2 separate regions of the Homo sapiens genome follow, and region 2 is linked to region 1. Evidence: fine-mapped expression QTL. Tissue or cell type: fibroblasts. Region 1 holds a variant in brackets; the other region holds the start of a gene. All regions are shown on one strand. Distances are between the middles of the regions.

The links. PIP is the estimated chance that this variant, and not a neighbour inherited with it, causes the effect.
Region 2: it holds the start of GPM6B, and the variant in region 1 is fine-mapped to the expression of GPM6B in fibroblasts (GTEx, PIP above 0.99).

Annotation. Positions count from the first base shown.
Region 1 is chrX:14,024,550-14,032,549 of GRCh38, forward strand. It overlaps GEMIN8 (gem nuclear organelle associated protein 8), which reads right to left and starts at 5,343. Exons shown (of 5, transcript NM_001042479.2): 1 at 5,228-5,343; 2 at 1,591-1,672. RefSeq lists enhancers at 4,932-5,432, 5,433-5,933 and silencers at 5,310-5,509, 5,544-5,683. The variant G/A (reference allele first, on the strand shown) is at 3,260.
Region 2 is chrX:13,812,357-13,820,356 of GRCh38, forward strand. GPM6B (glycoprotein M6B) reads right to left here and starts at 4,737. Exons shown (of 8, transcript NM_001001995.3): 1 at 4,488-4,737. The coding sequence starts at 4,548.

The DNA of each region.
Region 1 (8,000 bases):
TGAGGAGAGGTAACTTTGATCCAACAAATCATCTGGTAGAAGGGCTGCTATGTTAGAAGGCCTCAGAGATCACCCAGGTACATCCTGAGCACTTATGCAAGAAAGAAGCCAAGAGAATCATTTGAGATGACTGAAGAAAGCCAGTTCCAGCTTCTGAACCAGAGGCAGTTCAGAATAAGCCCAGAGTGCCCACTATCTACATTAATTAAATATATTAATTCATCAGCTAAGGTGCTAGACTCTTAAGACCCAGGACATTATGAAAGGATGAATTTATGTTAATGATGGAGTGCAAGAAACTCTGTAGGCAATTTTGCTTTGCTTTGATTATGCTTTCCTCACAGTTTTGACCACTGGGACATTTATAATCAAACTTGCTGCCATCTTCCATCAAGTTTAAAGTCCTGAGGCTGTATGTAGACTGTGCTCATCTCACTCTTGGCTTTATTATTTTCTCTCCCTAAATCCCAAAATGTACTTGTACTTGTAATAGCCTTTTACATTTTAAGTCTTTTTAAGATTCCTAAAATCCTATATTCAAATTAACCAATTTGAATAATTGACTTGAAGAATTACACATTCGTCTCTCAAAAGTCAAATAAGGCATAGAAAAACATGTTTAAAGGAATAGCAACTTGCATAGAGCTTTATAATTATTTTTAGCTAGGTCTTTCCAGTATTATTACTTTATGCCAGCAATTTTTTTTCAGTAAAGGGCGAGATAAATATTTTAGGCTTGTGGGCCACATACAGTCTTTGTCGCATAGTCTTCACGTTCTTTGCTTTAAAAAAAAAAAAAACACACACCAAACAACCCTTTAAAAATGTAAAAACAATTCTTAGCTTCCTGAAGTACAAAAAACAGGCTGTGGGCTTTTATTTTGCCCACCCCTGTTTCATGTTAACACATTTTGAAGTTGTATAGATTCTCTCTGAATATACTGAGCATCCTAATTGTTCCTCAGTTTCCACTTGGGAATCAGTAGACGAACTTCACGATTCTCACACGTTTCATAAATGATTAGGTTTGGAGAAAGACTAGTGGAGGCAAGAAAACTGACTATGACCAATAGCAATCATGTTGACCGGTTGCTAATATGTGGGACAAAAAAACACTCTCCATGACTAAATAAGGAAATTGGATCTTTTCTTAAATATCCATATAAACATTTAAAGACTTAACTAAAAATAACAATAAAAATTCTGCAAAACCATATCAATCAGCAGGGCTTAGAAAGCAAACAGGACAGAGCTCTGAATCTCTATTCCCTGGAAAGAATATATATTCTTTCCTGCTAAGCAATCAGTTAGTCAGTTAATATCAGTTAGCTCCCAAGGGAAGAAGAGGTCCTCTTCTAGAGATAGGTCCGATTAGCTTTTTTAAGCTGGTTATTTTCTTCACGCATGGAGAACTTAAGGAGCTAATAAGAATGCCTGGGTTTCTGAAAAGCCAACATCTAAATAATTATAGACATTACAGCAACACCTTCAGAGACTACTACCTCTCAAAGAAAAGAGAGCTGATGGTTGCTGCAGATTTAGATGCCCTTTGGTCTTTAATGGTCTTTAATTCGATCTTTCATTCCTCACCTCCCTGGGAATGTCTCCCACTCTTTTATGGCACAAGCCTTCAGGGACTGAACAGTAACTTTTCTCCAATGGGCTGGTGGAGCTGAAAGAAAAGAGATTGGCAATGTCAGGGAAGGCCGGGATCCGCAGCTCTACAAACCCGGCAGCCCTCTCCAGTGAGCACAATGGCATAATGGCCACCACCCAGCTGAGCCCAGGCGAGTACAGAGACCATTCATTGTCTGTCCTCAACCACCAAAGAAGGAAGGAAAAAAACAGGGTTGAGGTCATTCACTAAACACTGACGAGGCCTATAGGCAAGGCAGAGACTGAGTCTTGAATGATATATTTTTCCATATAGCCTCTCTTAAAAAACGGATTTACACTTCAGTACATCTGCTCATCCTGCAGGATCTATTTTTAATGCATAAATATACACAAAGAACAATAGATAAGAGCTTTGTAGTTTTCAATGGATAAAATGTGACTATTTCCATCAAGTTACCAAAAAATTTCACAAATAAGTGGCTTTGTTGACAGGTAGTGCCATCAAATATATTCTTTTAATTACATATTTATGTTCTTATAAATATAGAATATAGGACAAATCGTAGCAACCAAAAAAGTAAAATAAAAACACAAATTCCCCTAAAAACTAGAATGTATACTTGAACTAGATTTTCCTATCTTCCTTTTCTACTAGAATTCTAAAAATACATGAAAATTCACCTGCTTTGATCTTTGCACAGAAACACATTAAAAGCCAATCATTAAATAAGTTACTCTGGCTAAAGCCCTGAAAGTCAAACCTTCCCTACAAAGCTCCAGTGATTTGGTTCTCTGAACCAACCAGGTAATTTGGAGGATTTAGTTAGGTCTTCAGTACACACTGTTTCAAGGAGATCTGCTGGACACTGCAGCAAAATAAGTGAAGGTATGGTGAGAAATCTGAGTGAGATAGATTGAGTCATATGCGGTTCCAAGGAATCTCTCTGTACATGCAATAATAACCCTATCACAGAAGATGTCTTCCAATAATACACACAACAGTAAGAACTTCCTCACTAAGACAAAGAATATAATAGGGTTTTGTTGAGGGCTGGGCTTCCTGCCCCACCTACTTGGGCAGCCCTGCCCCCATCCCTGGCTGGTTGCTGAGGCTGGCAAGCTCATCTGGCTTGATGCCCTCATGGCCTCCCTCCTGTGTCTTTGCATGGTCCCTGCTTAGTGATTTGGACATCAAAGATGGCTCAAGTCCAAATGGCCTTCTTCCACCTGCAGACATCCAAGCTCCATCTTGGGCAGGACACAGGCCTACTCAAGTGCACATGCCACTGTGTTCAGAAAGCCTGCATCTCCCCGTCTATAATAGCTACAGTTAAAACTGATAGGCAAGGGAGCCAAAAAACTGAGTTTTATTTTCTTTTCATTCCCTCAATCCCCAACCCCAATTTACCCTCTTCTGGATGTTGTAATAAGTACTGTCACAAAGAAGGCATAGCATGGGGAAGGAGTAAGGCTGAAAGGATGCAGTTAACAATTCTTTTTTTCATACAAATGACATTCCACCCACAGAAGGGCATTGTTTAATTTGTCAGCAAGTGTGATGAATTTGTGAATGGGTTTATTTGCAAGTTCTCTGAATCCCCTTGTGACTAATATCAGAATCAAAAGTGAAATATGAGGCCAG[G/A]AACAAAGTTACCCTCTGACTCAGGAACACAACAAGCAATGGGATGACTGAGAATGACATAATGATAACATAGTTCAAAAGAGGAAACAGATAAGTTTGTTTCACAGCAAGCATGTCCTTCATAAGCAAAACCTAGTGTGACCATAAGGTAATAAGGGTTGAATAGGCAGGTTCTGCAAATTAAGAGCATAACAGCAAAAACCATGGCTAGTTTAAAGTAGTTAAGATCGCTAGTACATTTCAGGCGTCTTATTTCAAATTTACTTTTTTCTATAAACATATTCACGGTAATTCCATGTTAATCTCTCTTTTCTGAATTTATAGGCACTCACTATGCCTCATTTACTTGGGCACTTACTCAGTTACCTGTAGGCATGGATTCTACAATCTACTCCTTTTAAGTTTCCTATTTTCCTTCCAGCATAAAAATAATAGCTAATATTTCATGCTCTTAGATGCTGCTGAAATTGTTGAGCTTGTCTGTTGTTTCCTGATAACGTTCTCTCCTCCTGCATCTACTCCCCAAAATCTCTGAGGACCTAGTAACTCAAAAAACTGACTATAAAGCACCAAATCTTTTCAGGAAGCAAATATTTAAATACATTATGTTTTCAAAGATCTTTTCAATTCATCTGATATTTGATCAACTACATTCTTTTTTCACTTGTCCAGCTGTTCCGTGGCTGAATTTCCTCTTGTAGAGAAGTTGTTCAAAAAAAGTTCTGTACCTACTTTGCAAACTCTCCAATTTACACTCTAGCCTTAACTGTTCAAAACTTTCCCCCGTCATTCTCATCTCACCCTATCCTTTAAAAAAAAACCCAAAATGATTAATCACCATCTATAGAACAGTTTCAGAATGAACATTTCTCTCTGGAACTTTAGTTTGTATACTTCCCCAGCACAGCAATGAACACACAGAGGGGATTTATACACCTGTGAACTTGCTTTCAGTTATGCTTATTCCAAGTTACTAACCAGCAGTCTTTAAAAATATATGGTTTCTGTTCACATTGAAATTACAAAGAGACTGTTATTCCGATAAATTATGCTAGCAAAAATAGTATTTTTAAAGGGTAGCTCTCATCCTACAATTCATGGGGGCTGTGAGCATAAATAATCCTAGAAGTGTTGCGTTACTAATCTTTAGTCTAGATTTTTTAAGTAATATTGTTCTGATTTGAGATGAAGAACAGCTGAATACACAGCCTAGCCTGTCAAACGAGTTTAAAAACATCATTCCTGAAAAAAATAAAATTGTTCAGAACCATCTGATCTGTACTAAGGGAACATCAAGATTTCAGAGCTAAAATGCACTTCGTTGGCCACTGGTTCAATTACAGCTCATTACTGATAAGTGGGCAGAGACACAAGGCCCATAAACTGTAGGCGCCAGATGTCTCAAGATAACTCCCACCAAAAGCTGACCTCCTGCAGAGGTTAAAGTGCAAGAGAAAAGAAAGAAACCCGAATTTTTGAGCAGAGAGGGCAATATCCTAGACATCCTTCAAGTATGTGGCTGTCCTGGGCGATCTTCTATTCAGATACTGGACTGGATGGGCAAAATCCGAATTCACCTACAGACCTTAACACGGTGGTTCTCGGCACCCCAGAATCACCTGGGCAGCTTTAAAAACTACCGATGCCAGGGCCCCACTATTAGAGATTCTGATTTCATTGGTCCGGGATGGGGGCCCGGGGATCAGAATTCTTAAAGAGTCGTCCAGTGATTCGGAAGCACTGCAGAGCTGAGAGCCTCTGGGACTGGTCCCCTCTCACAATTAACCTGCAATGATTTAGGAATCTCATGGGCCTCCGGCCCCACCTTTTGTCGCGGGATTAAGATAATTATGAGAGCAACGTGACGTCCAAGACCTCGGCTCTCTGCGCATCAGAAGAAGCCAGGGCCCGGGGCGTCTAAGCTCCTCCCTCACTCCCCAAAGGAAACCCAGCCGTCCCCGAAGTCACCTCGTGGGCGCGCAGCTTGCGGATCCTGGGCGTTGGCCGCGCAGGGGCCTAGTTTTCCTTGGAGAGACAGAGGGGGAGTGGGGGACGCGAGGGAGGCGGCTGTTGCCGGGGCGACTGGAAGCGCGCTTCCGGTGCGGAACACGTGGCGTGGCGCGGCGCGCCGGAAGTCCCCCCCTGTGTCGCGGACGTCACGTTCGCACCGCAGGCGGTGCAGTGCTGGAGGCCGGAAGCTGCCTGCTAATCGGCTACCCCGAGTGGAGCGCCGGGGCGGCAGGCGTGGGATGGCTGCGGGTGGCGGGGCCGGCGGAGAGGGAGCTGCACCGGGCGGGGCACTGGGACTGTGGCGGGCACCCGCGCCGGGGGTCGGACGGTGCTTCTGCACCGGCGAGATAAGGGTCGCTTCTGCACCGCCCGGGTTTCCAGCCTTTAACTTTTTGTCCTTTCCTCAGCTTTCTTCGTTTTCCTTCCCTTGTCTTTACTTAGCCTTTTCTTTCTTCCTTTCTGTTTTCTTTCTTAACTAAAACAGTTTTAGTTTCTTAATTTGTCCCAGCGTAAAACACCCAGTCTTTGAAAATAGATTAACCCAGATCTCAGTTTGAGTGCGAGTCCAGTGCTAAGTTTGTAACTTCCCCAAGCCTCGTGTGTCTCATCTATAAGATATGCATAACCTAATGCAGAGTGCCTGATGCATTGCAGCAGACAAAACATTAGTACTAATATGTTTGTAATTATAACCATCACAGCAATACCTGCCCTGTTAACATTACAAGAGTCATTAACAAGAACCAAGCATAAACAATTAGAAGTCTTACGTGACATATCATTTCTGGGGCAATTACCATATTTAATACTTTCTGGGAATTTATTCCAAGGAAAAACAGGTACGAACCAGATAGATGTTTATTACAGAATTATTTTAAAAAGTGAAAATTGGAAAAGACCTAAATGCCCAACAAGGAAATGGCTAAGTCAATTGGGTGGTATTAATGACGTGACATTACTGTATTATTCCTGGACTACAGAAGAATTAAAATGGTATAGAAGAATATTAACTTTAACAAATATTTACTGGATGCCGGCTATGTGCCAAGTATTCTATGTTAGCGCTGTCCATTGTAACCACTACATGTGGCCCTGAGAACCTGAATTGTAGTAGTCTGAACTGAGATACACTGTAAGGGTAAATTACACTCTAGATTTTGAAGAAGAATGAGAAAAAGAATGTAAAATACCTCAATTTCTTTATAGTGATAACATCTTAGAGAAGGACTATTGAGGTTAAAGACTAAAATTTGATCTTTATCTTTTTACTTTATTAGTGTGGCTACTAGAACATTTAAAATTATATATGTGGCATGCATTGCATTTCTATTGTACCGTGGTATTCTATTTACCGGATACACAGTAGTAAACAATACAGTTTTGGGGCTCATAAAATTAAATCTTTTGTGTAGAACATAGACAATAAGCAGATAAATAGAATTGTATGTTGTGGTGAGTTATATGAAGACAGTATAGCAGGGTAAGGGCCAGAAAGTATGTGTATATAGAGGGGGATTATTTTAGAAAAGATTATTCCTCCACCTCAGAAAATGGATGTGGGAGGAAATGAGATATCTATGGATAGAAGCAGGAGATGGTAGGAGGGTGAAGTCTTATGGGAAAAGTCAGGTGTGGATTGAGACAGATAAGTCAGATGGGGCCTGGTGCAATCTCTACCTCAAGGAAGAAGCCAGCATCTAGAGAGGCAGGAAAGAAAGATGGAGAGGGGTAAGATAGGGAGAAAGAGCTTAGGGGGTTCCTGGGAAAGGCAGAAGGATGCAGGCCTAGAGTGGATATAGTTCAGGTAGAGTGATTCCTGGTTCTATGAATGAAAAAATACAATATATATGGTATACTATGGCATTAGATAGAATATTAGTTGGCTGCTGTCACAGAGACCCAGAAGAGGAGTGGCTCAAACTGTTGAGAAGTGTATTTCTATCTCATGGCAGTCTGGGTGTAAGGAGTCCAGAGTATGGCAGCTCCACCTGTCTCATAGCTCCACCCTCCCTGGTTTCTTGCCTTGGCCCACATGGTCCAAGATGGTGCACCACTGCACCTTTCAGCCAGTGGGAAAGAGAAAGCCAAGGGCATGCCCTTTCCCTCTAAGGATTTCTCCACCTTGGCACTATTCACATTTGGGGTTGGATAATTCTGTGTTTTGGGGGTTGTCCTGTGCATTGTAGGAGTTTTAGTAGCATCTCTGGTCTCTACTCACAAGATGCCAGTACTGTCTCCCAGTTGTGACAGCCAAAAATGTCCTCAGACATTGCCAAATGTCTCCTGGGCTGGGGGAGGAGGGGGCAAAGTCACCCCCAGTTGAGAACCACTGCTTTAAGAGTACTACCCAGAGGCGGCCCACAGCACTTCTGATCACTTCCTACTAATGGCCTGAACTTCATTACTTAGCCCTCCTAAGGGTGCAGGAGCTTGGAATTGTCTTTTTCAGATGGCCAAGTGCCCAGCTAAAAGTTGACTAAAGAAGAAAAGAAACTAGCTGATTCTCCCATACCCTTGTTGCTGCAGGGAATGGAAATTCTGTAGCTGATTGAGGATGTAGTCCTGTTCTTTTCATCTTTAAGTCTGAGTTTTAGTCATTACTCACTTTAACTCACTTGCATAAAAATACTGGTGGTGGGGAACACTAAGCACCTAAGGAGCGACAATCCTATTTGAAAAGAATGGGGATTGTTACTCCAGGGGGTTAACCAGGGAGAGAAACTGAATTTTG
Region 2 (8,000 bases), 210 kb before region 1:
ACACCATTAAACGAATAAATGAATGAACAACAAAGCACATTTGTGAAACTGGGATTGTAACCTTCCTCTCTTAAAAACAGTCGGTGTGGTCACTTTCTTCCTCCGTTCCATGGCCATCCCTACTCCTGGCCAACTATCTCCCATGTATGTACATTTGGTCCAAAGGAGAAAAAAGCGAGAGTGTCTTTGTAACAATCCAATCCAATCCATCACAGTCACAGAGAGGGGAAGTTTAAGTCATGGGGACACTGGTTATTTTGCATGTTCTCAGATACATCAAGACAAAGTCACTTTATTAAGATCATTTAGTCTAAATTGACCCTGTACTTCCAAATAACAGAGAAATGTGATCTTGAAAATCATAATAATCTTAATTCAGGGTTTACACTCAATTTCAGGGAAGGCAAATCTAAATTTCCAGAAATGGCCCAGAATTCTTTTTCTAACGAAATAGCAAGGCCAAGTCTTTAAAAAAATCCTAATGGAATTAATAATGTAAAAGTAGAAGATGTACCAAATGGCTCGTTGAGATCTTTTCCACATTTAAATGTTCTAAAAAAAAAAAAAAAAAATCAAAGGAAGCTGTATCATACCTACCACATATGTTCCGCACCATCTGGCCAGCCACTTTTCTCTACAGCCTATTCCCCAGACACCAACTCTTCAGATGTCCACCTTGGCAAATTCTTACAGATAATAACTGCATCTAAAACTTCCTCTGTACCATATTTATATAGCCAAGTTAGAAAATGTCAACACAAATTTCAAAATGCAATAATTCGCAGATCATCAGGAATAGTGTGACGTGTGTTATGTGTCCCTTTGGGTTTTTAATCACACAAGTCGTATATTCTAGAGGAGTGCTTTTCTTCCTAAACGAAAAATGAGAGCCAAAAGTGCATACATTTTGCTAAATTAAAAAAAAAAATAAGAAATTATATCTATTTGATCAAAAAGATTAAAATAGATGTATTAATTTTTTAAGGAAGTCAATAATTTAAATTCATTTCTTACTTTGACTATATCCTGTAATTTATTTTAAATTACACATTGTTTCCCATTCACTATATTTTTCTTCCTGTGTGGTTAGGAATTTAATTTGATGCCTGTAATTTATTTCAGCAACGATTCATAGGAAGTTAACTAACCTGACTATAATTGTTTCAGTAGAATTCAATTACCTACATATAATGAAAATAATTTTCATAACAGATAGATTTTTCCCCCATAATAGAGCATACAAAGTTGTTATGATTCAATTGTTTTTCTACTCAGTGATTATCCACTCTCAGCAATTTCAGATGCATTTATTTTCACAAATGAAATGACAACAAGTAATACTCCACTGAAATCAATGGAAACCGACTCTCCATCTTTTTATTATTGGGTTCCATGATCTATTTCTTTTGATTCTGTCTTATTCATTTCCTCTGCTTATTCCATGTCAGTGAATCTGCTTACTCAATCTTCACACTTTAATGCTTTTAATTTAAAAACTATCATTTGTAATAATTTGGCATTTCTTACATCCATCTAAGAAAATCTGCTTGTTTTCCTTAAAAATCCCTAAATATCTACTAAATACTCTTGTGAATTTTGGTATCTGGTAGCATGCTGTGATGAAAACTATCAGACTGAAAAAACACAAATGCTTTCCTTTTTTAAGGACATGGATTAATTTTGTCTAAAGTAGAAACAAAGTCATTGTGATTAAGTTTAAAGAAAGAGCTCTCTTTGTAGGAGTTAGTGAATCACAATAGCTGGGTTGTGTTGTCCCGCTGAAACTCCCAGGAAAGATCCCAACTAGAAAAGCAAGGTCAATTTATAAAGCTAAGTTTAATTTACATTCTTAGTTCTTAATAGACACTGCAATAATTATCCAAAGATATTAATTCACATGCTATTGGGTATTAGCCATTGGGCAATAATGCCCCAAATTAAGAGACAGGCATCACTCCATCACCAACCACTGAAAACAGATGGGAAAGGAGAAACACAGGAAAAAAAATATATATGTGCATAAAAAACTCTGCGTAAAGTGACAAAATTTACAGGATTAAATTTAATGAATAAAATCCTTTGCTGAAAGGCTTAAAAGAAAAACATAAAAAACGGATCCACCAGCTCAAGAATTATATAACACATTCTATAAATAATTATGTCAAGTTTTCAAATGTTAATTTCAATGGAAAAATAATTTTTTAATAAACTTAAAGTTAAATCTGAAGGAATACTGATGTGACAATCACGCAGAAACATTTGTGGCTATCATTTTATCCTATGTGTACCTTAATGATGATGGGTGAGCAAATTGGGAAACTACAAAGTGTCTTGTGTGGGCTTTGATTTTGTGTAGCCAGCATATGAACTTGTTCATCTAAATGCAGATTAGATAAGCCACCCTCCAGATCAACAATTATGGTGGGTCACACAACAATCACAACCCCTCTTGCTGTAGATCAGGAAAAACAAATCCCCTGGCTTGTATTCTTATTCAAGCATGTACCATACATGTCACACTAGCTTCTGGTAGTGTGATATTTTTGAATTATTTAACAAGCAGCTAGTGTTTATACATTTAGGTAATTTTTAAAGTTCCTTCACAAATTATCTTTTGCTTCTAATTTTGTCTCTAAAATCACAACTAATGACTTTTCATATACGGGTTGTCAGGGATGTACTAGCAACCTGTAGATCTGTTATTAAATAAGATTTAATTGACATAAAATAATAGCAGTCCATAAGACTAAGTGATAAGATACACAGTTGTGTAGTAATGATTTTATATTGGTTATATGACCTTTGCTTCCTTTCAGAGAGAAATTTAAAAAAGGGATTTTTTTGCAAAGACCAAAACGGTTTTATCTGCCATGGTTGAATACCACATTAATAAAAATTAAAAGTATGTACTAAGTAAAATCATCATTTTAGGATAAAATCGTGATAGGCTTCCTTGGGACAATGCTATTACATTATCATACCCCGACAACATGCAATCAACTTAGTCTCTAGTCATCATGGAAAAAACTTTGATCTCACTTCTTCATCTTGATAAATATTCCCAAGAGCTTCTCTTATAGCTATTTGGTCATTGATGAAGATTTTTTTTTTTTAAAGACACACAAGAAAATACAGGCTGGGTTTTTGGTGGGGAGGTGTAGATTTGGTAAGAGGATTGAACTAAACAAACGATTTTAAAATTAAGGTGCTATGTACTTAATGCCACTGAATCGTATACTTAAAATGGTAAATTTTATGTTATGTGTATTGTGTGATACCTAAAAAAATTAATTTAAAAAGTAAAATTGCTCTGTTTAGGATAAAATATTATTGTGTACCAAAGAAATTTTATATAAAAACAAGCAGTCTTTACCCCAGCATACTGTGAAGCTGAAGTACATGTAATTGCCGTTTTTGTAGGTTTAAAATGGTTGACTATCAGCAATTTCATATGGTTCAGCCTGTATCTTTATAAATAAAACGAAGTTTTGTCCCCGTACTGGCGAATTACTCTTTAGTGACTATCAGTGGACGCAAGGGCTGTGAGAAATAACCTTAGCATGATGGCTTTTTATATTAGAGCCACTGCGGTTACAGAATATGTTTTTGGGCATTTATGACAGTCTATGACTTTGAGTGAGGGAAAATTACAATGCAGTGAGATCCATTAACCTAACAGTGGCTGAGCCGATTCTATGGGACATCAAACTTGAAATCAGTCATTATTTAGAAAAAAGAGATTAATTTTAGTTCCTTTCTGCCATTTTCTTACTGCAAAAACACTTTATTCTCCAAAAAACCATTCTGTATATGAAAATTGTGGTACGTTCTAAGATTCTCTTTAAGAAATAGGACCTTTATCAATTTTCTTCCCCCCAGTCTCCAAGTCATAATTAGCAGAAGATCCCCCGCCCTGCCTTTCCATCAGCACTGGGTGACAGAGCTGATGTCCCCTCTCTGAAGCTCCAACTGTAAATGATTATTACATGTCGTAGTCAGGGCCTGATACAAGAAAGAGCAATCATATTAGAATAAGAAAATTAGAGAATGCCCAAATCACTACAGCATTAGCGGAACCAAAGCAGAATTAACATGCATGCCCCTCCAGTTCCTCCTCAGCATTAGCAGAAAACTACACATTCCACGTTCCTGGAATATAACATGCAGGACACAAGACCTAAGTTACGATTAATTATATTAATAAAAAAAGACAGTTTCCCCAATGCATCAGCCCAAGGTGACAAACTATAGACATCCCTCTATGAAATATCACGTCGGTAGAAAGATTTGGAACAGGAATGGATTGAAGAAAGGCTGCTCTATTAACTTAACATCAGCCCACAGGAAAAAAATCAACCCTGAAAGCAAGACCATGCCATAGGGATTGTCTCAGAGCCATTTTAAAAGAGAGACAAAACCCAGCTAACCCTTTTTAAGCACCCCCCAGTGAAAAGCTTTAAACAGGCTATTGTCAGAGCGCTGGGTACCTTTTCTCTCTTGGCTTTGTTCAGTATTTTCCTCGGCTGCAGTTTCCATGGCTGGCTTCATACCATCCACCAAAAATGCTTTTCCCCCTGTTCCCCCCAACACACACTTGTTTTTCCTCCTCTTCCTTTTCTTTTGGACTCCCCTCCGTCTCTTATTTACACCCGTCTGATTGAGAGGCTCTGTTCTTCACTACAGTAGATTACAGTCCCTTCCAAGATGCAAAAGTCTTGTCAGCGTCAATTTCGCTCTGCCTACTGGTCCATAAAGACAGCTGCCAAGGGGCAGGCAGCCATACGTCACCGAGGATCCCAGTTAGAAAACAGCCATTCGGCGCCCGGTGGTGCCTACAGTCTCAATGCGGCTCCAGTGGGAGTTGGGGGTAGGGGGGTGGGGGAGAAGGACCTGCTCCCCACCGGGCTCTTCCTCCTTGCTCTCTTTCTTAAGATCTCAATCTCGATCTCTCTCTCTCTCTCTCTTTCTCCCCACCTCATTTCTTCTAGCCAAGTACACCCAATGAATGCTAATTAATTCTCCCAGGAAAAAATAGATTTGTGACATCAGAGGAGGGGATGTGAAGGAGAAAGAAAAGAGCCCCCTCCCACCACGTGACTTTGTTGGTCGACAGCAATATATGTCGTCTCTAAGGAGAATGCATGTCTTTGCATAGGCATGACACTTTCTTTCCTGTGTGGTCCATTTATGATGTATCAGTTTATTTCATTTACCCCTCGACCCTGGCAAAACATATTCAAAGGACGTGCCCATAGTCTCTATTTACTTTCTTAAATATTTGTCTTTCATACAATTTCTAGATAAGTACATTGCTTTTTAAAAATATAAATTAAAGAGGGGGAGAAAATACATTAGAGGGAAGAAAACTCAAACACGGATTTAACGATAGCAATGTAGCAATTTGTTATTAGAACCCACTCCCTTGTCTATAGTTAATATATATGATAGTAAGAGAAACTCAAGCCTAATTTGTAAAAAGGCACCCTTCCTTATTTAAAAATAAGCATAACATGTTCACAAGTATATCGAGCTGACATTTTGGTAGTTTCTTGGAATGAAAATCAAAATAGTTTTTTAATCGGATATGGTTATTTCTACATGGAGTTTTACTCATTAGAATTCCTCACTCCAAATCGAAGGGGTGTTTTCAAGAGCTCTCTAAATATTCAACATAAAGGCTAGTATACCAATAATGATTTGCCTTCTTGCATACCCAGATACCATGAGGCCAACATTCTCAACCCATACCAACATATAAGCCTTTATCATGATTATGAGCCATGTTTCCAAGCATCACTAATTTCTGCACCATTTTTTATGCATTTGGCTGACCAACTGGCCTTCGCCGTCCCTATAAAAAATTAGAGAGACTCAAGTCAAATACAGGGATGACCACTGATAGGATTCCCAGATCATGAATAGTCTGCTAGTTGGTTGGGCTTAACACTTATCTTGGAAGCAAACATAAAGACAAGTTGGAGACCACCCTCTCCTAAAATCACTCTCCTAAGTTTTGATGGTTTCTTGCTCAACTCCTTGAAAAAAAAGTATAAGGTACTGAATCAAAATCTTCTAAAAACCTGATCTTTTAATACCTTGGTTTTAGATAATCCCTCAAACCTTCTTATATTTAGAACTTCTAGATGTGTTACAGTCGAGAAGATTTTGAAAACCAGTTTAGCTTGTTTCAACGTTTAATTTTACATCTTGCTTTTCCCTTTACCATTGTCTTAGAAGACCACGCCCACAATCAAATATGTATTCCCTCAAATTAAGGCCCCAGCCAATTTTATTGTCTCCTGGTCAGGGGATTGAGAAGTATGGCAGCCTAAAACCACAGACTTTAGAAAAAAGATTCGTTTGTGATATAATTATTTCCATGGGAAAACCCTATGGTGTGTCCGGATAGGACAGTCTTAGACATTTTTTGCAAAGACTACTTAGGTCCATTCAAATATAGAAAGGTGGCAAGTGTTGGTATGTAACAGGCTTGCTTTCCCAGCAGTTCAAATGAGAATTAAAACCAAAACAAAATTCAATTCAGCACAAAAGAGGACACTGTGATTAGCTGTTATTGGTTTTTAAAGTGTCCAGCAAAAACATCTGATTATAGAACCAGCAGATCCTAATAATTTTTTGGCTGTTGCTTAAGAATATTATTTTAATAGTGATGCTGGTGAAAAGGCAGAATATGAAAGACATTCTTAATTTAAGAACAACTCTAGTTCTATATCGAGATCAAAACCATTAGACAAAATATTCACACATCCTCCAGTTGATACCTGCATCTACTTTCCACCTGAAAAACTACATGGAAATGAGCAATTCATCACTTTTGCCTGATTCACAACTTCATCATTTTCTTTTCACTAGGATAATGTATTACAATTCTAGAAATTACCATTATATCACTTTATAACAGCCTCAAGATCTCACTGATGTTTATGATAAACCATTTGAAAAACAATTGTCAAGAGGAAGAGAGAAGAGTATTGCTTATTACATTTCTGAGATATGCATCCATTTTTGGCCAGAAAAGTTCTATATGTAGAAGTAGGATGGAAAATGTCTTCCAGAGCTGAAAATATTTCTTTGAGCCCCATGCTCTAAGGCAGTCTGGTTGAAGGTAAGAACACTTCTGAAAGCCAAAACAGGAATACAAAATACTGAACAAAACAGATTAGAATAAACATATGAAATTGCTGATATTGACCAAGAAGAACAGCAGTTTCACGTGGTTTGACTTATATGTTTGTAAGTCTTCTGTATAATTGCAGCCAGCTCAGTAAACATGCATGAAGTAACCTCCCTAGTGCCAACATCTACAAGCAGCACAGACATGCACAAGTGACGATGCCTGTCTCCAGGTAACCCACGGCTAATGGGACACAGAAAACTCTTCTAAAACAGGGTGCTCCTGCCTGCCACAAGCACTATGGCATCACAACAAAGAAAATGGATGGAGGGGGAAGAGAATTTGAAAAAAGCTTTGCAGAGTTGAGTTGGCTATTGCAGTAATGCTTAGAAACCTGCTGGGTAGGGTAGGGAAGGGAAAAGCAGGAAAGAGGAACGGAAAGAGTTCTAGGAAAAACTGAAGGGCATATGAGAGGAAAAAGAGGGTACTGTCAAAGGGTCAGGAAGTGATTTTTCTGACAGAGGGACTGAAGGGAGATGGCTGAGCCAGTAGGTTGGGAACCAGGTAGGTTGAACACCTTGCTAGCCCTAGAGGCAGTAGGTAGAGATAGAAGGCTCAAGAGCAGAGCTGATCGTGCTTTACAAAGGTCATTCTATTGGTAACGTGGAAGACAGGGTGGGTGGAGTATGAGACTAGAGGCTGGCAAACTAGTCAGGAGTCTCCTGCAACAGTACCAGTAAGAGATAGTGTGAACCTGAACTATGGCACGGGGAGGAAGTGAGGACCCAGATGTCATTGGATTGGATCTGTATGAGTAGGGGTGGAGGAGGATTTGAAGGGGAGGCTAGAGTTTCTAGCTTGGGTG